Linked DNA regions of Homo sapiens. The protein of the gene in region 1 purifies or fractionates together with the protein of each later gene. This does not show direct contact. Each region holds a gene or a part of one and is shown on either strand. Other genes may lie near its edges. The genes, in order: TMPRSS11B, LRFN3, SLC16A10, DIPK1A, ABHD17B, TM9SF3 and MR1.

The links.
Region 2: the proteins of TMPRSS11B (region 1) and LRFN3 purify together in Homo sapiens (affinity purification with mass spectrometry; 2 studies listed by BioGRID and IntAct, with this or other methods). This does not show direct contact.
Region 3: the proteins of TMPRSS11B (region 1) and SLC16A10 purify together in Homo sapiens (affinity purification with mass spectrometry; 2 studies listed by BioGRID and IntAct, with this or other methods). This does not show direct contact.
Region 4: the proteins of TMPRSS11B (region 1) and DIPK1A purify together in Homo sapiens (affinity purification with mass spectrometry; 2 studies listed by BioGRID and IntAct, with this or other methods). This does not show direct contact.
Region 5: the proteins of TMPRSS11B (region 1) and ABHD17B purify together in Homo sapiens (affinity purification with mass spectrometry; 2 studies listed by BioGRID and IntAct, with this or other methods). This does not show direct contact.
Region 6: the proteins of TMPRSS11B (region 1) and TM9SF3 purify together in Homo sapiens (affinity purification with mass spectrometry; 2 studies listed by BioGRID and IntAct, with this or other methods). This does not show direct contact.
Region 7: the proteins of TMPRSS11B (region 1) and MR1 purify together in Homo sapiens (affinity purification with mass spectrometry; 2 studies listed by BioGRID and IntAct, with this or other methods). This does not show direct contact.

The regions. Positions count from the first base shown.
Region 1 is NC_000004.12:68,235,695-68,239,194, reverse strand, and holds part of TMPRSS11B (transmembrane protease serine 11B), read left to right. Parts: intron 1-2,928; coding exon 2,929-3,044; intron 3,045-3,125; coding exon 3,126-3,193; intron 3,194-3,500. UniProt on the Homo sapiens protein: Serine protease.
Region 2 is NC_000019.10:35,942,874-35,946,373, reverse strand, and holds part of LRFN3 (leucine-rich repeat and fibronectin type-III domain-containing protein 3 precursor), read right to left. Parts: intron 1,827-3,500; coding exon 1,355-1,826; 3' UTR 1-1,354. UniProt on the Homo sapiens protein: Cell adhesion molecule that mediates homophilic cell-cell adhesion in a Ca(2+)-independent manner. Promotes neurite outgrowth in hippocampal neurons.
Region 3 is NC_000006.12:111,227,003-111,230,502, forward strand, and holds part of SLC16A10 (monocarboxylate transporter 10), read left to right. Parts: 3' UTR 1-3,500. UniProt on the Homo sapiens protein: Sodium- and proton-independent thyroid hormones and aromatic acids transporter.
Region 4 is NC_000001.11:92,841,667-92,844,064, reverse strand, and holds the end of DIPK1A (divergent protein kinase domain 1A), read left to right. Parts: coding exon 1-682; 3' UTR 683-1,898; downstream 1,899-2,398. Other genes in the region: RPL5 (large ribosomal subunit protein uL18), read right to left, coding at 2,200-2,299.
Region 5 is NC_000009.12:71,869,694-71,873,193, reverse strand, and holds part of ABHD17B (alpha/beta hydrolase domain-containing protein 17B), read left to right. Parts: intron 1-2,931; coding exon 2,932-3,111; intron 3,112-3,500. UniProt on the Homo sapiens protein: Hydrolyzes fatty acids from S-acylated cysteine residues in proteins. Has depalmitoylating activity towards DLG4/PSD95. Has depalmitoylating activity towards GAP43. Has depalmitoylating activity towards MAP6. Has depalmitoylating activity towards NRAS.
Region 6 is NC_000010.11:96,531,513-96,535,012, reverse strand, and holds part of TM9SF3 (transmembrane 9 superfamily member 3 precursor), read left to right. Parts: intron 1-1,822; coding exon 1,823-1,962; intron 1,963-3,500.
Region 7 is NC_000001.11:181,040,483-181,043,982, forward strand, and holds part of MR1 (major histocompatibility complex class I-related protein 1 isoform 1 precursor), read left to right. Parts: intron 1-3,500. UniProt on the Homo sapiens protein: Antigen-presenting molecule specialized in displaying microbial pyrimidine-based metabolites to alpha-beta T cell receptors (TCR) on innate-type mucosal-associated invariant T (MAIT) cells.

The DNA.
Region 1 (3,500 bases):
GTCTCAACCTTATGACCCCATTTAACCATAATTCTCCCTTAAAGATCATGTCTCCAAATACAGTCACATTGGTGTTTAGGGCTTCAACATATGAATTTTGGAGGGGATACAATTCAATCCACAGTAAAAATCAAGTGAAAATTAATTTTAAAATGGTACCTTGAACTGATAGAATTCTCCAGTAAAATTATAACTGGAATCAGAAATCTAAACATAATGGTTTCTCAGAATCTGGGCATGATGTATGAGACTTTTGACAAATTAATCTACCTACTTGTAAATACCCTGGTTCAGTATTCTGGATGTAACACAAAGTTAGCAGATTCTAATTATTTACTTTAGTCATTTGGTGACAAGCTTCACAGATGAAAATGATAAAATAGTAGAAAGAAGAGGGTCTTAGAGTTTATCTATTGTAATTTAGTTTTTGTTTGTTTTTCTTTGTTTTTTGTTTTGTTTTGTTTTTTGGAGATGGAGTCTCACTCTATCTCCCAGGCTGGAGTGCAGTGGTGTGACCTCAGCAAACTGCAACCTCTGCCTCCCAGATTCAAGCAATTCTCCCGCCTCAGCCTCTCAAGTAGCTGGGACTACCAGCGTTCGCCAACACTCCTGGCTAATTTTTTTTTTTTTTTTTAGTAGAGATGGGGTTTCACCATGTTGGCTAGGCTGGTCTTGAACCCCTGACCTCAAGTGATCCTCTCACCTCTGCCTCCAAAGTTCTGGGATTACAGCTGGGAGCCACCGCACCAGGCTGCAATTTAGTTTTTGTGATTAATAAAGAAAATCCCAGCGGGCTAAATATGCCAAGACAGCACAGCTGATTTGTGATGGGGCTGGAACTAGCTCCTCTAGCTTCATATGCATTCATCTTTTCAGGTAACTTCTCAGACAGACTTTGGCATTGGACTTTTGTATATATTGGTTACCATAAGGAAAAATATAAGAATCTATAGGAATATAGGAAATCAGTTTTTATTTTATTTTAAAATTATTTCTAACTTACAGGGTAATAAATTATTTCAGCTTAGGAGATCATACTTTTCAGTAACTTAGAGACTACATGGTGTATGTTAAAGGTGGATCAAAAGCACAATTGCTCTCAAAATACAGGAATGGCTAATTACTTAACCAAAACAGGGTATTCTTTCATATTAGTTCTTTTTATTTTATTTTTTTTGACATGAGGGTCTCACTCTGTCACCAAGTCTGGAGTGCAGTGGTGCAATTACAGCTCACTGTAGACTTGAACTCCTGGGCCCAAGCAATTCTCCCACTTCAGCTTCCTCAGTAGCTGGGACTACAGGCACGTGCCACCATGCCCAGCAAATTTTTTAAGTTTTTTGTAGAGACAGGCTCTCACTATGCTGTCCAGGCTGGTCTTGAACCCCTGGACTCAAGCAGTCCTCCCAACTTGACTTCAAAAACTGCTAGGACTATAGGCATAATCCACTGCATCTTGGTAATTCCTATTTTTAAGAGGCTTGTCCTGTTTTAAATTATGGTGACCTAATGTATCACGTGAAGCAGTTTATATTTGGGGAAAGGAAAAGATGGGGATATGAGACCTTGTGACTCACACAAAGCACCACCCATCATATGCTGTAGGGAAATAAAAGGGCACCATGCTTTTACACTGTTGGGAGTGTAAATTAGTTCAACCACTGTGGAAGACAGTGAGATGATTCCTCAAGGATCTAGAACCAGAAATACCATTTGACCCAGCAATCCCATTACTGAGTATATACCCAAAGGATGATAAATCATTATCATTCTACTATAAAGACATATGCACCCTTATGTTTATTGCAGCACTGTTCACAATAGCAAAGACTTAGAACCAACCCAAATGCCCATCAATGATAGACTGGGTAAAGAAAATATGGCACATATACACCATGGAGTACTATTCAGCCATAAAAAGAATGAGTTCATGTCTTTTGCAGGGACATGGATGAAGCTGGAAACCATCATTCTCAGCAAACTAACACAGGAACAGAAAACCAAACACCACATGTTCTCACTCATAAGTGGGAGCTGAACAATGAAAACACATGGACACAGGGAGGGGAACATCACACACCAGGGTTGGCAGGGAGGTGGAGGCACTAGTGGAGGGATAGCATTAGGAGAAATAACTAATGTAGATGGCAGGTTGATGGGTACAGCAAACCACTATGGCACGTGTATACCTATGTGACAAATCTGCATGTTCTGCACGTGTATCCCAGAAGTTAAAGTATAATAATAATAATAATAATAATAATAATAATAATAATAATGGCACCATGGTGTCCTCCAGGAATAACATCAAGGAATGGAAACCAGGCCAGCAGGCAAAGGGCATACAAAAGGGTGCAAGACAGTGTATATCATCCAGAAAGTGAAGGGTGACTGATGCTTGTATGTTTCCTGTATTAGAATTGCTTAGAAAGATTAATTGGGTAATTGCTAGGCTGAGTTTAGACTATACATGTAAAAGATGTTTTATATCTAGTGCATACTCAGGTGGATTGTTAGTGACTGTGGGCATTGCTGTTTTGAGGAGGGTGCTGAGGGTATATCTGGACTTAGCAGGACAGTAATGTCTATTATCACATAAAGGGAAAGCGGGGATCATTGAATGAATGATATGGAGTTGCCATTTCTGGAATAAACAATTGTTCACTCCTCTCCTTTTATTTTTCTCCCTCCCTTGGATTATTTCTAAAGCTGGGTTGAATGTTGAGGCAGAGGTATAAATGGTTAAGGCAGAGGTATAAATGTTGAGGCAGAGGTATAAATGTTAAGGCAGAGGTATAAATGGTTGAGGCAGAGGTATAAATGGATTATTTCTAAAGCTGGGTGGAATGTTGAGGCAGAGGTATAAATCGCTTTAAAGTCACTTTCCACTTTAAAATTCTTTGAGGTTTTTTTTTCTTAATTTTGCAGAGAAGACTTACTATTATCAAGGTGATTTTCATATTTCTGGAGTCACATACAATGATAATTGTGAAAACGCAGCTTCACAAGCCAGCACAAATCTAAGCAAAGATATTGAGACTAAGGTAAATCAGAGATTTTTAAAATTAATTTTATTATAAATTTGATTGAAACATACATGATGACTGTTTTTTTTCTCTTGTCAGATGTTAAATGCATTTCAAAATTCCAGTATATATAAGGAATATGTCAAATCTGAGGTCATCAAACTTCTGTAAGTACAAGTTCATTTAAGATTTTATGAAAGGAAAGTAGGTGATATATCATACAACCTTGATTTTAGATAACAATAACAACAAAAAACAAACATAAAGAAAAAGAGAAACAAAGGAAAGGAAAGAAAGAAAGGAAGGAACGAAGGAAATAGAAAAAAAAAGAAAAAGAAAGATCAAGTTCTCCATGAATGAAAGTATCATTGTATCTAGCAAATTTCTGTTCTGGGCAAGAGTCATTATATACAAATCTTTAATCTTATACCTGCAAAAGAATTATAAGGTTATTGGTGGTGGTCAGTCCTAACT
Region 2 (3,500 bases), on another chromosome or scaffold:
TAGTGAGACCCCATCTGTAAAAAAAAAAAAGAAAAAAGAAAAAATGTCCCATAGTGGGGACTTGGAATCATCCCCCACAAGAAGCCGTCTTAACCCCAGCAGCGTCAGTTCCCATCTCTGCTGACAAAGCCCTCATTTCTATTTCCAGCTTCAGCCTCAGACCAGGGGTCCTGCACCCTCCTGAATGCCACATCCTGGACATCCTCAGGGCCCCCTACACCTACCAAGTTCCCCACTGGCCATATCATCTTTCCCAAACCTGCTCCTCCTCCCTGGTCCTATATGAGGGCAGTCCCCACCATCTTCCTGCCCCACCCCATGGCCCCGCAGCTCCATAACCCACCGCCTCAGCTTCCCACAGTTTCCCGAGTGTCTCTGTCAACCCACTCCCTTTTCTTGTTCCCTAGCCCAGCTGGTCCAACTTCGTCCTCACCCACCCAGGTCCCTGCCCCAGCTTCCCCTGGGGCTCCCAGCTTCAGTCTTCCCCTTGGGTCCACCCTACTCATAGCACTAGAAGGATCTTCCTGAAGCCCCAAACTGACCCCATTCCTCCCTTGCATACAACCCTCCATGGCTCCCTGGTATCATCAGGCCAGAGTCTGAGCTCCTCAGCCTGGAGGTCCTAGACCCTGCTCAACCCTCCTGCCTCACCTCTACCATAGCACCCCCAGTGCCCAGGGCACACCACCACCTTGCTTGTGCTGTGCCCTCTGCCTGAAAGAGCTTTCCTTCTGCTCTTTGCCCAGTTATCTCCTTCATATGTCATTCTCAGATCACATGTGTCCTCCTCCAGGAAGCCCTCCCTGACCACACCTGGGGCTGAGCAAGGGTACCTCTTCTGGACTGTCACAATCCCCCAGGCTTCCCTCATCCCCACATCCCTGGTCACTCTGTGCTATCACTGTCTGGGGATGTGTCTGTCTCCCATTTGACTTTAGGCCCCTGCGGGCAGGGCTCAGGGCTATCTGGATCACCACAGCATCCCCCAACCCAGGGCATGCTCAGAGCCGACACGCAGGGAACATCTATTGTCTGAATGGATCGCCATCCTCAGCCTCCTCCGGGGTCCTCAGACTGAACTGGGCGGGGAGGGGGTGTCTCCCCAAAGGAGGCATTCCCCAGCTCCAGACCCCTGCTCCGTCCCCCAACCCCCATAGACAGAGACGAGGGCAAGGGTCTTCGCCCAAGCTTGGAAAAATAGGACTTTCTTGTTTTGCCCCGGTGTCCCCGACACCCTCCCCATCAGAGTTTTAAAAACCATGAGCGATTTGGTGAGTTTGAGGCCAGGTCCCACAGGGTGTCCGGGTCCTGCTGTCCGTGGGGCCAGAGGACCCTTAGAGGGGGGGGCGCCTGGCTAGGGTCCCACAGGTTCGTGGCCGGGCCCCCAGGGCTCGCAGTCCAGCTGGACCACGGTGTGGGCCCTGAGCGCCGCGGGCTCCGGGGCGGGCGGGGCGGGCGTGGGCGTGGGGCCCAGGGCGCCGTTGGTCTGGGAGCAAACGCTGCTAACAGGCGCGGGAATCTTGGCCTTGCCGGGGGGCTGGCCGCCGTGCACCTTGTAGCGCATTAGCAGCACGAAGATGAAGACCAGTACCGAGGCTACGATGACGCCGCCCAGCGCGATGATCATCGTGCCGCCCAGGAAGGGAGCGTGCGGCGCCCCGCATGGCCGCAGCGCAGGTTCGGTGGAGAAGCGGGCGCAGCCCACAGGCCGCGTGGCCGTGAGCCCCGTGGCGCTGTCCTCATACACGGCGAGCACGCACAGATCGTAGGTCCGGCCTGACGCCAGGTCCGTCAGCAGGAACGAGCGGCTCTCCGCCGGGATCATCCTGCAGGGCAGGCAGGTGGGGGTCAGGTCTCAGGCTGCCCAGCCCCCAACCTGTGCTTCCCCCACCAAACTCCCTGCGGGGCTAGACTTCCCACCAGTCCACTCCTTCATTTCATTCTACCCAATGAGCTCCCTCTCACCAACATCCCAATTCCCTTTGGTCTGACATCCCATTCAGCCACCTGACTGATACCCCTCCAGTCTGTTGGCCAATTTCACTCTAGCCCACCCTCTCACACGTCCTCATAGCCTGCTGCCCATTTTCACTCTAGTCCCACCACCCAATTTCTCTAACAGCTCACCACGTGAGTTCTTCCAATCCATCCTGTTTCTTTTCTTTCTTTCTTTCTGTTTTCTTATAGACAGGGTCTTGCTCTGTTGCCCAAGCTGGAGTGCAGTGGCATGATCACAGCTCACTGCAGCCTCTGACTCCTGGACTCAAGCCATCCTCCGGCCTCAGCCTCCTGAGTAGCAGGAACTACAGGTGTGCACTACCATGCCCAGCTAATTTTTAAATTTTTTGTAGAGACAGGCTCTTGCTATATTGCCCAGGCTGGTCTCAAACTCCTGGCCTCAAGGCAGTCCAGCCTCCTGCCTTGGCCTCCTTAAGTGTTGGGATTACAGGCGTGAGCCACCACACCTTGCCGGTTTCATTTTATACCCAACTGCCCAATTTCCCTTTTGCACTGCCCACTCAATTTCCCTCCAGCCTGCAGCCCAGCTCCGCTCTAGCCTCCCTGCCCAATTTTGCCCCAATCCTCTGCCTGATTTCACTCTGGTCCCACTGCCAGTCATCTCTCCAGTTCACCACCCAATTCTGCTCTAACCCTGTCCAATTTCCATCTAATTTAATCCTTTTGTCTTCTAGCCACCCCCATCCAATTTCCCCCACATTTTACCTCCCAGTCTCCTCCAGACGCTTGCCAATTTCCCTCTGGTTCCCCTATTTCCTGCAGCCTATGCCAAATTTCCCTTTTCCAGCTGCCTGATTTTCCTCTAGTGTACAGCTAGGATTCTCTCCAATCAAACCACCTGATCTCCCTGTACCCCTGTTGCCCGATTTCCTTGTAACCTGCCAATAAATGTCCCCCTAGCCCTATTGCCTTATTATGATGACTGTATTGATAGCCTGTTTTCCAATGAGTCCTGTCGTCTGATTCCCTTTTCATTAAACTAATGTGCCTCCGTCACTACTGCTTTCTTTTTCTCCCTGTTGCCTTATTTCTTTCCGGCTCTGTCACCTGCTTCTCTTTTATCTCTGTTGGCTGGTTTCTATTTATCTTTTTCTTTCTTGTTTCCTTTTAATCCTTACCACCCAATTTCACTATAGTTTCTTTTGTAGTTGGGCACCCTGTTGGAGAGTTGACTTATCACCTGTTTTATTCCTAGGCTATTCTAATGAGAGAGGTACAGGGAACTCCGTGGCCGCCTGGGGCAGGGTGACTGTCTAGGACAGCATTCATCCCATTCCCCACCTGGCAAGGTGGCCAGGACTTGTGTGACTTTTTTTTTTTTTTTTTGAGACGGAGTCTCACTCTGTCACCCAGGCTGGAGTGCAGTGGCACAGCCTCGGCTCACTGCAACCTCCGCCTCCCAGGTTCAAGCAATTCTCCTGCCTCAGCCTCCTGAGTAGCTGGGACTACAGGCGCGTGCCACCACACTCAGCTAATTTTTT
Region 3 (3,500 bases), on another chromosome or scaffold:
GTAGTCCCAGCTACTCAGGAGGCTGAGGCAAGAGGATTGCTTGAGCATAGCAGGTCAAGTCTGCAGTGAGCTGTGGTTGCACCACTGCACTCCAGCCTGGGTGACAAAATGAGACCTTGTCTACAAAAAGGAAAAAAAAATTTGTTCTGCTCTACTATACATGCTGACTTTTGTTGATAGCTTGGTCTAAAAAGACTGTCTAGAGCTGAATTTAAGAATGGTTCTGGAGCAAATAATAACAAGGTAGACAAGCAGGCCCTGGGCTCACTATAATTTCATAGCCACGACCTGTTTATTATTAGTTGGCAGAGATTAATGCTTTGTGTTATAAATATACTATAGAACAATAGGTCACGATTCTCAAGAACAAAGCCGAATGCTCGCAGTTAAGTGTGAAGCTTGCATAAGTGTCGGAACCACAATTATGGACCCACCATCAATGTGCATTTTATCAGATGACTCCTCCTGAGACAGTAAAGACTCCTGGAAAATTCATGACATCTTTGAATCACTCAGAAAAATCTTGAAACTCAGGACGTAGTTTACTTAGCTTGCCTTTTTTAAAATTATCAAATTTTAAATCGTAAACTTTGTCTTCACTTCCACACGTTCAAGGACACCTCTTTTAAAGTTCAGTGTTCCATACTAAAGGGGTGTAATCTTGCTTTCTGGGGAAATAAAATTCCCCATGGTACTATATTCCTGACAGATATAAAATAACATGAGGCTACCTCATTTTTGAAATAGATTTCAATATTTTTATTAGTAAGTTGGAAAGACAGTAGGAACAAAATGAAACCTTTCTAAGTACTTGATGACACCCACTTGATCATGACAATTCATCTACCTCCGCTTTCCGTGTCCAGCTGAAAGCCCAGCTGAGTCAACTCCTGCTTCATCAGAAGGGAGCTAATGGTGATTCTGGGATTAAAAAGCAAGGGGGGTGCAAATTGTTAGTGGGGTCAAAATATCAGTAAAATTTCTTAAGTGCTTTGTTCTGATAAACGGATGTAAAAGTAACAAAAAAGGAATAACAACTAATATGGCCTGTGGATCTGACAAAGAAAAACCTGAAGAAATTCAGAATCTAGATACACTTAGATTCTAAATTAGACACACTCAGATTCTAATGAACACTTAGAATGCTTCGCCAGTGGCTTTTCAAGTTACACTGGAAGCTTGATTATGAAAAAGTTTTGTTTTCATTGGCAAGAGGGTAGATGATCAGTGATGACAGATTGTACAGCTGTGCCCAAACCTGACAACTTACACATTAAACTCCTGTAAGAGACACTCCTTCCTAGTAGAACAAGGACTGGGACAATGAATTTTTGACTCACTGGAGTTTTTTAAAATGCTGTTCTTGAGTGTGGCAATAGTGTAGGAGTTAACCCAGTCTACCCAAAGAAGTTGCTTTGCCTTTCAATATGAGTGCTATAAAAAGAGTATTTTGGAGTTCAATGTCCCTAAACATGTATGCGATAGGAACTACCAATATAAAATAACACTTAGAACTCAAATTAGATTGGTAATACTATTTTGGAGCCTGTGATGTATGACTTTTATTCTTTACTAGATATTTTTCAGTATCCGTCATTAGAAGAGTCAGTTTGTTAAATATTTTAAATGTGTAAACACAAAACCTTTCTACTGTGATCTTCCCTAATGAGTCAAAGTATCTTTCATAATTCAGTCTATATTGAAATGTTATTTCAGGAATGGAGGGTTTGTTATTAATAGTGCTGGGCCGGGCACGGTGACTCATGCCTGTAATCCCAGCACTTTGGGAGGCCGAGACAGGCGAATCACCTGAGGTCAGATGTTGGAGACCAGCCTGACCAACATGGAGAAACCCCATCTCTACCAAAAATACAAAATTAGCCGGGCGTGGTGGCTCCATGCTGTAATCCCAGCTACTCGGGAGGCTGAGGCAGGAGAATTGCTTGAACCCAGGAGGTGGAGGTTGCAGTGAGCCAAGATTGCACCATAGCACTCCAGCCTGGGCAACAAGAGCAAAACTCTGTCTCAAAAAAAAAAAAAAAAAAAATAGTGCTGCATTTTGACCCTGGACTATGAACAGACTGTATAGTTGGTGCCTCTTTTTTTTCTACCAAAGATTATTAGATCAAGATTGGTGCTATACTTCATGTTCCTTTCAAAATTATTTTTCTTTTAAAAATATTAATATACAACACAATAGAAAATGTATACAGCCAGCAACGTTATGCATGTTGCATGTTATATACATGACTGAGGAAAAAAGCTCACCTATACAGTGATTATTGAGTTCCAGTATCTAGTTAGAGGTATGCAATTTTTGTTAACATATAAGACTTTAAATTACGAAACTCACAAGAAAATGATCACCAAATGAGAATGTTCTAATGAACACAACCTCCCAAGGTAATAATTTTAAAGAAAAAGTCCCTTGTCAATGTTTCTAGCACAAAGTGAGGGATTTAAATATATTCTGTAACTTTGAGGCAATGTGAAAAAGTTATATATAATAGCTTCCTATTGAGCTGGCTTATGTAGACATTTGGACATTTGAAACTATTTCGCAACTTTCAGGCTAAAATCAGAGTTTTGAGAGTCATCAATCTTAAAACATGGATAATGAGTTATTTGCACAGTTATATTTTTATAATTATTTGAAATTTATCACTGAAAGTATCATTGTTTGTCTTTCAGATTTAACATAAACAATAAGTACTGCGGCTGGGTCACTGTCAGCAAATCTCAGGTCTATGATTTATCAAGGGCTCTCAGCACCATCGTTGGTCTGATTGTGTAACACCTAAGTAAAATAACATATGGGTCTCCTTGGCCAGGCGCCGTGGCTCACACCTGTAATCCCAGCACTTTGGGAGGCCAAGGCAGGCGGATTGCTTGAGGCCAGGAGTTCGAGACATACGGGTCTCTTTAATGTTCTGTAGGTAGGATTCAGATGAATTGAGAATGACAGGTTTCTTTTTCTTTCTTTGTTTCTTTTTTTTTTTTTTTTTTGAGATGGAGTCTTGCTCTATTGCCAGGCTCCATATAGTGGCGCGATCTCAGCTCACTGCAACCTCCGCCTCCCGGGCTCAAGTGATTCTCGTGCCTCAGTCTTCTGAGTAGCTGGGACTACAGGTGCCCACTACCACACCGGCTAATTTTTGTATTTTTGGTAGAGATGGAGTTTCACCATGTTGGCCAGACTGGCCTTAAGTGATCCACCTGCCTCAGCCTCCCCAAGTGCTGGAATTACAGGCATGAGCCACCATGCCCGGCTAGAGAATGACAGGTTTCAGTTGAATTCTTCTCTTTTAAAAGACCCTGACTTAACTGTATTTTATGAGGATTTTATAAATGTAAATTAAGAAGACAATACACACTCTCATTTTCCTAATTAGAAAGACTATGCATTCACAATCCAGTACACTGGATTTGCTCTGGTAACTAATGATAACACTTTTCTACGTTAACATGAGTTATATTTGGCAGAGAGAATGGAAGCTTGC
Region 4 (2,398 bases), on another chromosome or scaffold:
ATTTCTTCTCATGGTGATACTTCAAGATAAAGAACATACCCCCAAATTAATGGGATTCTGTGGTGACCTCTATGTGATGGAAAGTGTTGAATATACCTCTCTTTATGGAATAAGCCTTCCTTGGGTCATTGAACTTTTTATTCCATCTGGGTTCAGAAGAAGCATGGATCAGCTGTTCACACCATCATGGCCAAGAAAGGCCAAAATAGCCATAGGACTTCTAGAATTTGTGGAAGATGTTTTCCATGGCCCCTACGGAAATTTCCTCATGTGCGATACTAGTGCCAAAAACCTAGGATATAATGATAAGTATGATTTGAAAATGGTGGATATGAGAAAAATTGTGCCAGAGACAAACCTGAAAGAACTTATTAAGGATCGTCACTGTGAGTCTGATTTGGACTGTGTCTATGGCACAGATTGTAGAACTAGCTGTGATCAGAGTACAATGAAGTGTACTTCAGAAGTGATACAACCAAACTTGGCAAAAGCTTGTCAGTTACTCAAAGACTACCTACTGCGTGGTGCTCCAAGTGAAATTCGTGAAGAATTAGAAAAGCAGCTTTATTCTTGTATTGCTCTCAAAGTCACAGCAAATCAAATGGAAATGGAACATTCTTTGATACTAAATAACCTAAAAACATTATTGTGGAAGAAAATTTCCTACACTAATGACTCTTAGTTCATTTGGACATAATTACCATTTTAAGAAACCTGCCACTTTTAAAGAACAATTTTGAGCATTAAAAAAAAATGGCTTCAAATTCCGGCCAGTTACACAAAACTCCTTCCCCCCAGGCCTGAGAAGCCATCAGTATGTGATCACTGAAGTAATGGCAGGTGTAGGATCAACAGGTCCCCAAGATGTCATTCCTGCCCTTTTAGAAGCCCTGTTACATCTCCGAAGTACATTCATTGTGTAACTATTTTGACTGACTTTAAAAACCAATGCTGTGAAAAGCTTCATTCCATAAACATCAACAGTGAGTGATTTGTAGATTTACCTTAGCCAAAATACCAATGCTGGAAGCATTGTGTTTGCATTGAAGCTGCTGTTCAACAAGAAAATTTATAAATTTACTAATGTCTTAGCATGGTAAAGTTTGCACATTAACAGAAATTAAGACTGCAAAGCAGGTTAAACTTGCTTCTTTATAAAACAGATGTTGGGTTAATAGCATGGTTTACTGTATTAAAGACTTATACACCCATTTTTAACCTCATTCAGACATCAAGTTATGTGTAGCTTCACAATGGTTCAAGTGGCTTACTTCAAGAAATCTTATACTTGACAGTACACCAATTTTATTGACTAAAAATGGATGAACTTTCCTAAAGATTCAAAGGGCCCATCTTAGTATCACGCAGCTGACTGAGCCCTTCAAAACTGACATCTTAAGGCCCAATCAAGATCCACATATCCTGATTTTGAACTATGTGAAAGTGGGACTGTAAGTGCAAGACTAAAATAAATTATAGCAGACTTTTTAGTAATAACTTTCCATTTTCAAACAGTATATCCTGTGGGCCAAAGGGCTATTTCTTAAAGAGGCATGTAAATGTATTTATTTATCTAATGTTTTTTTCCCCATGTAAACTTGATATACAAGGTTTAGTATTTGCTCCTCTTTCATATTATTTTCACACGTATACTCAGATTTGGCATGTACCTTTCAACATCTCCATAAAATTAAACACCTTTTGGAGAAAAGAACCACTATTTTCTGCTCAAAGGTTTCGCCTACCTAAAGTGGAACATGTTAAAAATCTATGTGACCATCACTGGACAGCTTTCTCTCAAAACTTTCCTTCAACGCCATGGATTAGCACCAGTTTTGTTTACTTTAAGGTACTTTTCCCATTCATCATCTGGTTATAATAAATGGATGGAAGAAATATTTCCCACTGATGGTTGGTCTGTTGCTTGCCAAATTTTTAGGGAGAGCTGTTCATCATACAACATAAGGGATAATGACTCCTGTCAGGTAAAACAGAAGCCCAAGAAATAACAACTTTTTTTCTTAAAAAGTTAGTTACACTTGTTTTCTTGGAGAAAAAAACCTGTCAACTCCTTTGCTTTTCCAAAATATTTCAGGGTATTTCCTATAAGGTTCATAAGAATAAGAGCTTAACACAGAAATAGTTGCTGTTCATAAGTTTATTATCTATATCTGAAAAAATCATAGAAAATTGCTGGGTTTAGCTCTCAGCAGCCCGCTCCTGAGCTCTGAGGAAGCTTGCCTTCTTTTGAGCTACCCGATCCTTCTTCTGAGCAAGGGACATTTTGGGACGGTTCCACCTACAAAAGATAGGAATATATATTTTTTAAACTATAACTGAAGAGAATAGAATATTTAATTTAAAATTTTAATAAAATTTAATTTTGATAGAGAATATT
Region 5 (3,500 bases), on another chromosome or scaffold:
ATATAGGCTATTCTTTATATTATATGAAAATAAAATATCTGACTTCCAGGATGTTTTAGACTGAAGCTATAGGATATAAAGAAAACTTACTGTTTCTAATTTAATGTTTAAATATTAAAGATTTCATTTAGTCAGGAAAAATTTCCTCAATTTTAATAATAAAGTAGTTAATATTATTAAAGATATTAAAAATATCTTTAAAACTATTTTTCCCTCCAAAGAAATGTAATAAAGTTATGCTCTCATAGCGAAGTTCTACATAAAAGGGATTCTTAAAATCAACTGAAATTATATAAAAACATAAATATGGGGAATAAGGAAAAAAAGATGGCAAGTAGTAGGTAAAGAGTTGATGGGGGATGGTAAAGTTATTGTTTAATTGATAAATTAAAAACTGCTTTAAATAAAAATCTTTTACATATATTGATATCAGTTCCATCAAGCCTTAAAACAAACAGAAACTGAGTGCCCACTTTTTAGAGTCAGTCAGTTGAATAACGTATAACAACTATAAGAAAGTATTATAATTAAAAAAATAGCTTTATTGAGTGATAAGGTTCACACTTTTAAAGGTTAACTTCAGTGGAATAATGAAGTTTTAAAGGGTGCTAAGTTAAAACTGATAGCCAGCTTTCATTATTAGTGCTTCCCAGTAACGCAAAAGGGTCACTTTACTCAAACAAAACATGTTAGTATTCAGTTCAGTGTTCTGTGTCTATATGAAAAAATCCCATTTTTTAAGTGGTCAACTTTACTGTTTTTTTCTTTTCTTTTCTTTTAATCTTGGCATTTACCAATTTGAAGAAAACTTTGAAAAATGATTTTCAGCCTTAATTTTTTTAACATATTTGATAGCCAGTGTTAATCAGGAATGGGCAGATTTCATCAATAATCCCACATACTATTTTAGCACTTATATTTTAGAATTTTAGACCTGTGTTTTCTTTCGTGTTGAAACCAAAATATAGTTGGAGTTTCATAAGTGTAGGTACTTTAGGAAATATTACTTCTCTGAGCCTGTGTTTCCTCATCTGTTTAATGAAGAGATTGAATTAAATGATCCCCAAGATCTTTTCCAATTCTGGAATTCTGTCATCTAATGAAATGTGTGTAATTAGAATACATGCCTTTTATTTTATTTGCCTGATTAAAAGTTAGGACTTAAGTAACCAGGAGAGAGAAAATAAATAATGAACTTAAATAATGTTCATTTTTGGGATGAATGAACATTGGAATGTCCTTTTTGGGAAAATTGGATATCCATAATAACTCCAATTTCTGACCTTCTGATGGACCAAAAGAAACTCGGGGCCTGGCATTCACTATGCACCTTTCCCACAAAGTCCTTGAGTTCCTCATCTGTGTGCTTCAGAGGTAAAAAACACTGAACTGGGAGTCAGTATACCTGGGTTCTAATTATAGAGCTGTCATCTACTGGTGACTTTGAAGATCTGCTCATTAGGCAGCTGGACTCTAGATTAGATGGTCTCTAAACTCCTTTCTAGCTCATACTGTTAGGCAGTTGTTACTCTTGTGAGTCCCCTCATGCTTAATTGTCAGCTACCTCTGCGACTCTATCCTTGAGCATTGTCATTGCTAGCTGTAGCCCAAATTTCATGATTGCCACCAACAATGCTGATATTCAGCTGACAGCAACAATGCAGCCTCAAGAACTGTGGTCATGCTGCAAATGTTCATTCTCCTAATTTCTTCATTCGTATGAAATATGTGCAACTAGGTCTGTTGTAAAGAAAAAAGCTTTTCTGAGTTTGCTAATATTTAGAGTCAATTTGAAGTAGACAGAGCCCCACTTTCTGTGTCCTATACAAATGCTTGTGTAGTACTGACTTGAAGAAACTATATGGGGAGAGCTGTGTTACTACCTGTATAGTTGAAATAGTATTATGCCCCTGGAAGAGAACACACGGACAGTTTCCCTCGCTCTTTCCTGGTGAATATCCAGATTCTTAGAAAGATATTTTACCTTTGCAAAAGATTTCCAAAAGCAGCTGTTATGTTCTTAGCTGCCAGAGTGACTGCTGTCTGCCTTCTAAGTGGAAAGGTGTATTTAATGTCACTATAACCTTTAAGCCCACATTCATTAGCTCAGGTAGCACTGTACTTACACTTGCAGTAGTTTACATTTGGGATGATTATACTGTAGACAAGTAGCAAGCAGTTCCTTGAACATACTAGGTACCCAATAAATATTTATTGAGTCAATGAGTTTTCATCTATTTAAACCTGTGGCCATTTTAAAGGGATTAAAATAGTACCTTGTAATTTTAGCGTAAAGTCTAATCATAAATAATTGGACCATGTGGTGTTTGGAATTCTTTTTTATCTTTTCAACCATTAGTCCATTTCTACAACTAAGCAAAGATCAATTTTAAGAAAAATCGTAAAATCATAATTTGCCCTTTACTAAAACCATACATATATTCATTTCATACCATAACTATATGTAACAGTTCATCAATATGACCAATTTTGGAAATTAAAATGAGCCACTCTTGATGTGTGGAGAAATAAATAACTTTTGTTACACTGAACGGAAAATAAATATGACCTATTCATTCAACATCAGTTCATTAAAATATTAGTGATATGCCCCAAGCTTAGTCAGCAGTAAGCTAGGTTGAAATATTATAGTGTAATAAATTATTTAATAAATTTATTTCTTAAGATTGAAATCTTAAAATACCTCAGCAATTATTCTTCCAAAAGATGAAGTAGAGAAACACATGAAATAAACTGATGATACAGACTTTATTGTAATGTTAAAACTAACAGTAATAGCTAAGAAACTTAAGTTTAAAAAATGGATTAGTTGACATTGTCTTATTCTAAGATCAAATCCTTTGGAATGATGGAACATTTCATATCACTCCAACTTTTTTGGTTTTTGTTTTTAACGCCTGAACTTTGTAGATATGGCATTCGCCCTGAAAATGTGATTATATATGGCCAAAGTATAGGGACAGTACCGTCTGTGGATCTTGCTGCTCGATATGAGAGTGCTGCTGTTATTCTTCATTCTCCTCTGACTTCGGGAATGCGAGTTGCCTTTCCTGATACCAAGAAGACCTACTGTTTTGATGCATTCCCAAAGTAAGTAGCAATATTCAAAATAGTTAAATTCCAAGAAACTTGGGAATTTTTTCATCATTTAAAGTATTCATGACACAGTTCACTCAACCATAAACTTCATTTTATATATATTAGCACATAGAAATTATGAAAAATTAATTTGTAAAGAGGGTATTAGCAGGTGACCAGTCAGAAGGCTGAAATGTTTGAGGAGTAGTAATCCAGATGAAAATTGCTGAGGGCCTTACACCTCAGGTGGTGGCACTAGTATTGGAGACAAGGGAATTAATTTGAAACATAAATTTGACAGAACTGAGTATCAGACTGGGTGTAGGATGCTAAAGAGAAAAACTTGAACATGACTACCATGTTTCTGCCCTGAGGTGCTAATGGATAGGGCCATCCAGTGA
Region 6 (3,500 bases), on another chromosome or scaffold:
TTTTTAGTGAACAAATATGTGCAGGCCTTAATTGGGATGAGGTGAAGGAGATAGAATAAAAGACCAATATAGCATTACAAGCCTTCCTAATCAATGACAAAATTCATTCAGTTCAGTATATACACAGAGATAAGCAGGAGAAACTTTATTCTGAGATTTGCATGAAAATGAGTTAACCTGGCTGTGATATCTCCAGTATACTGATATTTGGTATAGAACTCCTTTGAGCTATATATATCTTATTACAGTTGAAAGTGTTTTAAAAAGAAACTATTTTCAAAAGGATACTCAAATCAAATGCTTGTGGAATCCCAGAAGCTCTTCAGTAGGACCTGAGAGTTCTTTGGAACAGTTTGAAAACCATTCTTCTAGACCATGTAATTCAACATAGGAATGTTTTCTTCATTTTCTCTGTAATTCTTATTTGAAATTAGAGTTCTGGTAAACTAAGGGAAAAATATATAGGTCTTTATTACAATGTGTTAAGGTTTATGAGTCTTGTAGTTATTAAGAAAGTAAAAGCAAAAATTGAGATGGAATTTATCACTCCCCATATTTACGACATATGTATAGTTCATAACATAATGCTTAAACTATCTTAAAAACACCTGCTTATTTTTCACATTTCACGTATTTTAATATGAGCATAAATTCATATTATTCATAGGCCTAGGCCTAAACTGAAACGCAGATAAATTGAGTTCCTGAGTCTGATGTTTAAAATGGTATTATGGAGCTCTGTAATTCTCACATATTTATATTTGATCTGAAAAGGAGATGACAGTACCCTTTGGCTTGTTTAAAAACACATATACACACACAAAAGGATCTAATGAAGAATTTTTACTAATATTGGTTCAAAGAGATCTTTCCTTCTTGTGCAATCACTGTGGATTTCCTACCCCATACCTCTTCATTTCTCTCAATCAGTGTCTTCACATGTTTCATTCAGTTTTTCTCTCACTTTTACTTTCTATTTATTATAACCTAAAGTGTATAATTTAAAGACATCTTAGAGGTGATTCAATTCTACTCCATTTTACAGAAGTTCAGAGTGAAATGATCTTAATTAGATGGTTGGCCGGAAAAGAGCTGATTTTATAAAGAAAAAAAGTCACAAAAATAAATGTTTCTAATTGGCCACTTTGGTTCTAAAATCTCCGTATGGTCTTCTCTGTAATTTTAGACTTTGCACTACTAATGGGCAGGAAAATATTTGTACTATTTTACTAGTGACACATAGATAGCGATCTCCTTCTATTAGGATTCCAAGGTAGTGTAGGATAGAAAAGAGTGTGGGCTTTGAGGCTGGCAGATCTGAGTTGAAATTTTGGTCTGGCTCTCCACTAGCTATGCAATTATGGGAAGTTACTTATCCTTCTCTGAGTCTCCTTTCCTTCATTTGCAAAATAAGAAAATAACACATATAAAGCTCTTAGTGCATTTTATGAGCTCAAAAAGCATAGCCAGATAAGTAAGTTGGTTATAATAATGAAAGACAATGGATAAATATATTAAAAAAGCATGACAGCTGAGAGTGAAAGAGGAGAAAAAGGGATTGTGGCAGAGATAGTCTGGAAGAATAGGAAAGAATGGAAAACCAAATTGGATAAGAACTAGTTCAACTTGTATTCAGTTTAGTTCTAATACTTTAAAGCACACCTTTTTGTTTTCATTAGTGTACTTCTTGCACAATTTTAGCTCATATTGAACTTAAACATTTTCTTTTGTGGTCAAATTGTGTTTAAATTGTGTCTCTTTTATTTGTTTATATTAATGTTATTGTTCTCTGAGTAATCACACATTTTTATTTAATTTACAGGTGGCCGTTTGTTGCATCTGTTTTTTTGTTATTCTTCCTCTAAATCTTGTTGGTACAATACTTGGCCGAAATCTGTCAGGTCAGCCCAACTTTCCTTGTCGTGTCAATGCTGTGCCTCGTCCTATACCGGAGAAAAAATGGTAAAGAGAATGCTAAATCTTATGCGATTGTTTCACACAATATATAAGTTCTTAAGGCTGTTGTGTACATGTAACTTTAGAATTGGTATGTATTTATGATAATGACAATCTTAAGTTTGAGCCTAAGAAGTTCATTTTACTATTTCCTTTAACCTACATTGTTAAGAGTAATAATAAATTATACCCTTATTCCACTTTCTGAATATCGTGCCATTTAGAGTTAAGTCAAATGCTTTTCTATGGTGTAGAAGTGGGTGTGAACTAAAGCTGCAGTTTTACTAATCTGCAGGCCAAATCTGGCCTGCTCCCTGTTTTTATCTATAAAGTTTTGTTGGAACTCAGCCATGCCCATTTGTTTACATATTCTCTGTGGCTGCTTTTATAGTACAGCATCAGAGCTGGCAGATCAGTAATGTCAGAGATACTATCACATGCAGAACCTGAAATATTTACTATCTTTCCAGATATTTTAGTACTGTACAATTTAGTGTACATTTATTACATTCCCTATTTATAGGAATAGTTGTATAGTAAGTAGACTGCATTTTTATGATAACGGAGATATATATATATAAAGTCTCTGTCCCTAGATATTTTACCAGATTATAAATACAGCATATTCAGGTGCTTATACAAATAGGTGATAATTTTGCTCTGTCCCTTCTAGACATGGAGGCATGTAGACATTTATAGAAATGGAGGATGAATAAAATAGCCCCTATAGTTTGAATTGGCCATATTCTTTTCTTTCCTTAGATTGGTGCTTATGAGAGACTTTAGTTAGAACTTTTGTAGTTTATTATTTTATTTATTTATTTATTTTATTATTATTATTATTTTTGAGATGAGGTCTCACTCTGTGGCCCAGGCTGGAGTGCAGTGGTGTGATCTCGGCTCACTGCAAGCTCCACTTCCTGGATTCATGCCATTCTTCCGCCTCAGCCTCCCGAGTAACTGGGACTACAGGTGCCCGCCACCACGCCTGGCTAATTTTTTGTATTTTTAGTAGAGATGGGGTTTCACCGTGTTAGCCAGGATGGTCTCGATCTACTAACCTCGTGATCTGCCCACCTCGGTCTCCCAAAGTGCTGGGATTACAGGCGTAAGCCACCACGCCCAGCCTGTAGTTTATTTTTTAAAGTAATTTTTTTTTTGTAAATCAGTATGTTAGGACCCATCAATATCCTTACTGGGAAGGGTAAGTTTAAAGGAAAAGCATAGTCAGAAGTCACAAAAGTTCCTCTAAGTCACTAGGGCCAGTGAAGGAGAGGTCTGGTGAGAGCTTCCTCACCAGAGATGCATTGCAATTAGGTATAGGAAGGCTTGTGTGTGCCTCTGTTTTGGGGAGTATAATCCTGGGAACCTAAATCTGAATACTAGATCTGCCTCTCATTGACTGTGTCACCTTGGGCAGATCACTTTTAACCTCTGTGTCTTGGCTTCCTGTAAAGTAAGGAAAGAAGACTACATTAAATGATTTTTAAGTTTTTTTTTCAGCTCTCAAATTTTACCATTTTCTTCTCAGTTTTTTAGTTTGT
Region 7 (3,500 bases), on another chromosome or scaffold:
TGTCAATCAACTTCCCACCACAGCAGAGGTAACATTTTAAAGGCCCAGCTAAGGAGCAAGCATGACTTGTTCCTGTGGAGGCACCAGATGGGTAACTGGGCCCATGGCAAATGAAGAGGAAGGGACTGTGATGTCCTGGAGCAGAGCCACGCTGGGCTGAACCAGTGGTGGATGGGTGTGACTGAAAAAGCAAGTCCAGCCTTTAGGTGCCTGGACTTTGAAGTCAAGGCTGGCTGGTGGAGAACAACTGTTTCAAAACCAGGCATCAGAATTAGATTGAAGTTAAAAAAAAAAAAAACCCAGAAAGAAAGAAAGACACAGCCAGGCACGGTGGCTCATGTCTGTAATCCCAGCACTTTGGGAGGCCAAGGCAGGGGGAATCATGAGGTAGGAGTTCAAGACCAGCCTGGCCAACGTGGTGAAACCCCATCTCTACTAAAAATAAAAAAATTAGCTGGGTGTAGTGGCAGGCGCCTGTAATCTCAGCTACTTGGGAGGCTGAGGCAGGAGAATCGCTTGAACCTGGGAGGCAGAGGTTGCAGTGAGCAGAGACTGTGCCACTGCACTCCAGCCCGGGTGACAGAGTGAGACTCTGTCTCAATAAATAAATAAATAAATAAATAAATAAATAAATAAATAAAGCACAATACTTACTTGGACAGTATTGTCAACAGACCATATTTCTCTCTATCTACCTCTTTTAACTTCAGATAATGCAAATTCTTGTGAAAATTACATTTTTATAAGAAAGCAAAGTTACATGAATTGTAAATATTATGTTTGGAGATGATGCTGGTGATACTTAACTGGAATAAATCCTGCTATTGGGCACTAATGCCCCAAGTTGTTAATACTGGAGGTTTTTTTGCTTGTTGGCATCTATCAGGAATGTAGACCTCAGAGATCATAAAAATAGAAAACCCAGATTCCAGGGGATGTTCTACACCAACCCAGCTTAGCTCAGCAACACAGCATCTTTTTTTCTTCCTTCTTTTTTCTCCTCTCCACATTCTCTGTCTGGAGTCTGCTCTCCGTGGGGATTTTTTCCCATGAAAAACTATGGAAGTGATTCCTCCCTCTTTCTTTTCCCCTCACTCCCTCAACTCCAGCCACAGGCCTTTGTGCTGCTCCTGGAATGTGCCAGGCATGTTCTTTCCAGGGGCCTTTGCATGGCCCTTCTTGTCCAGACTGCTGTCCCCAGACACCTGCCTGTCTCCCCAACTCCTTGCAGGCACTTGCTCAGAATTCAGCTTTGTGGGAAACCTTCCTTAATACGCCTTCCTTTTTTAAATAGTGTTGCCCATTCCTCTTTGCAGTTTTATTTTTCTTCACTGTACTTTAAAAAAATTATATATTTTATTTTCTAGTCTGTCTTCTCCCCTTCCCCCGACTAGGGTGTAGACTCCATGAGGGCAGACATTTTTATCTGTTTGGTCTGGTACAAGCTTAGGGCCTAGAAGAGTGGCTGGCACAGAAGAAGCATTGGATATACAAATCAATATTAAGGAAGTGTGAGAACTAATATTCACAACTTGTTCCTCCTTTTGGGTCCTCCTTCTTTAGACAGTTGTGTACCTCCAGTGTAGCCACAAAACTTTCCAGATGTGAAAAAATAGAACTATTTCAAAATCAATTGCAGAATATATATAGTACCCTTTGCAGATCCCAGATTGCAGTTCAACTCTCCATTCACCAGCCTTCCCTTGAATCAAAGATAATTTTTTTTTTTTTTTTTTTGAGATGGAGTCTCGCTCTTGTTGCCCAGGCTGGAGTGCAGTGGCGCGATCTCGGCTCACCACAACCTCCACCTCCCAGGTTCAAGCGATTCTCCTGCCTCACCTCCCTAGTAGCTGGGATTACAGGCATGCGCCACCATGCCTGGCTAATTTTATATTTTTAGTAGAGATGGGGTTTCTCCATGTTGGTCAGGCTGGTCTTGAACTCCTGACCTTAGGTGATCCACCCACCTCGGCCTCCAAAAGTGCTGGGATTAGAGGCGTGAGCCACCGCGCCCGGCCAAATCAAAAATATTTTTTAGGCCAGGTGCGGTGGCTCACGCCTGTAATCCCAGCACTTTGGGAGACCAAGGCAGGCAGATCACCTGAGGTCGGGAGTTCAAGACCAGCCTGGCCAACGTGGCAAAAACCCGTCTATACTAAAAAAAAATACAAAAATTAGCCAGGCGTGATGGTGGGCACCTGTAATCCCAGCTACTTGGGAGGCTGGGGCAGGGAGAATTGCCTGAAGCAGGGAGGCAGAGGCCGCAGTGAGCCGAGATCACGCCACTGCACTCCAACCTGGGCGACAGAATGAGACTCTGTCTCAAAAAAGATCCAGGTTAAATAGATTCATATTCATTTCAGCATATTTCATTATTCCAAACCACAGAAATAAAGTGTTTCACCAACAATTTAATTCACCCAATATTTACCAAGCTACTACCATGTGCCAAGCTCCCTGTGCTAAGCTTTGCAGGAAATACAAAGGAAAAAAGCAAAGTCCCTGTTCTTAAGTGCTTTAAGATTGAGAAGCAGGTAGAAGGTAGTAAGCAGAGGGAAACAGAAGGCAGAATCTGGTAGCTATTGGTTTTACGACAGAACTCATGCTCTGATGCAATCTCTGGCTCTTGTTTGCATAAGAACCAACACTTTTATGAAGAGGCTCTCATGACTACCCCAGAGGCTTCCACTGTCTTCCCTCCCAACCCAAGCCCTCACCCACCACAGGAAGGGAAGGGGGAAGTAAAAGGTCAAAGCAATACAGAGGGACATTGGGACCTTATGCTGCCCCAGCCTGTGGGAGGCCAGCCTCCATCCTGTTCAGTATTGCAGCTGACATGCAGGATAACACCTGTGAGGGAGGAGCCCATGGGGCGGGGATACCTACTCTGAACCCTGCCAAACTGCTACACCCCAGCTCCAGGAGCAAGGAGAAAGAAGTGCTAACAATGATTTTAATTGCTGGGCGTGGTGGCTCACATCTCTAATCCCAGCACTTTGGGAGGCCAAAGTGGGAGGATCACTTAAGGCCAGGAATTTGAGACCAGCCTGGGCAACACAGACCCTGTCTCTATTAAAAAGAAGTGGTGACGTGCTTATAATCCCAGCTACTCAGGAGGCTGAGGTGAGAGGACCACTTAAGCCCAGGAATTCAAGGCTACAGTGAGCTGTGATCATGCCGCTGCACTCCAGCTGGGCAACAGAGTAAAACCCTGTCATACACACACACACATATGCACACACATACATACACTAACTAGTACAATCAGTTGCTCTGGGAGATACCTCTCAGGGCCTCTTGTTTTTCCTAGTATGCAAGGTAAGGGTACCCTGGCCTTGGGGTGGTCAGTTCTGAAAGATAACCTGCACATTATGAGTTATTTCATAAGCAGTTTTAGAGAAAAGAAAAATATAAACAAACTTGTAGCACAGAAGCTAATCCAACTATTTTGTGAGCTGATTTTTTTTTTTTGTCTGATCTTTTTTTTTTTTTTTTTTTTG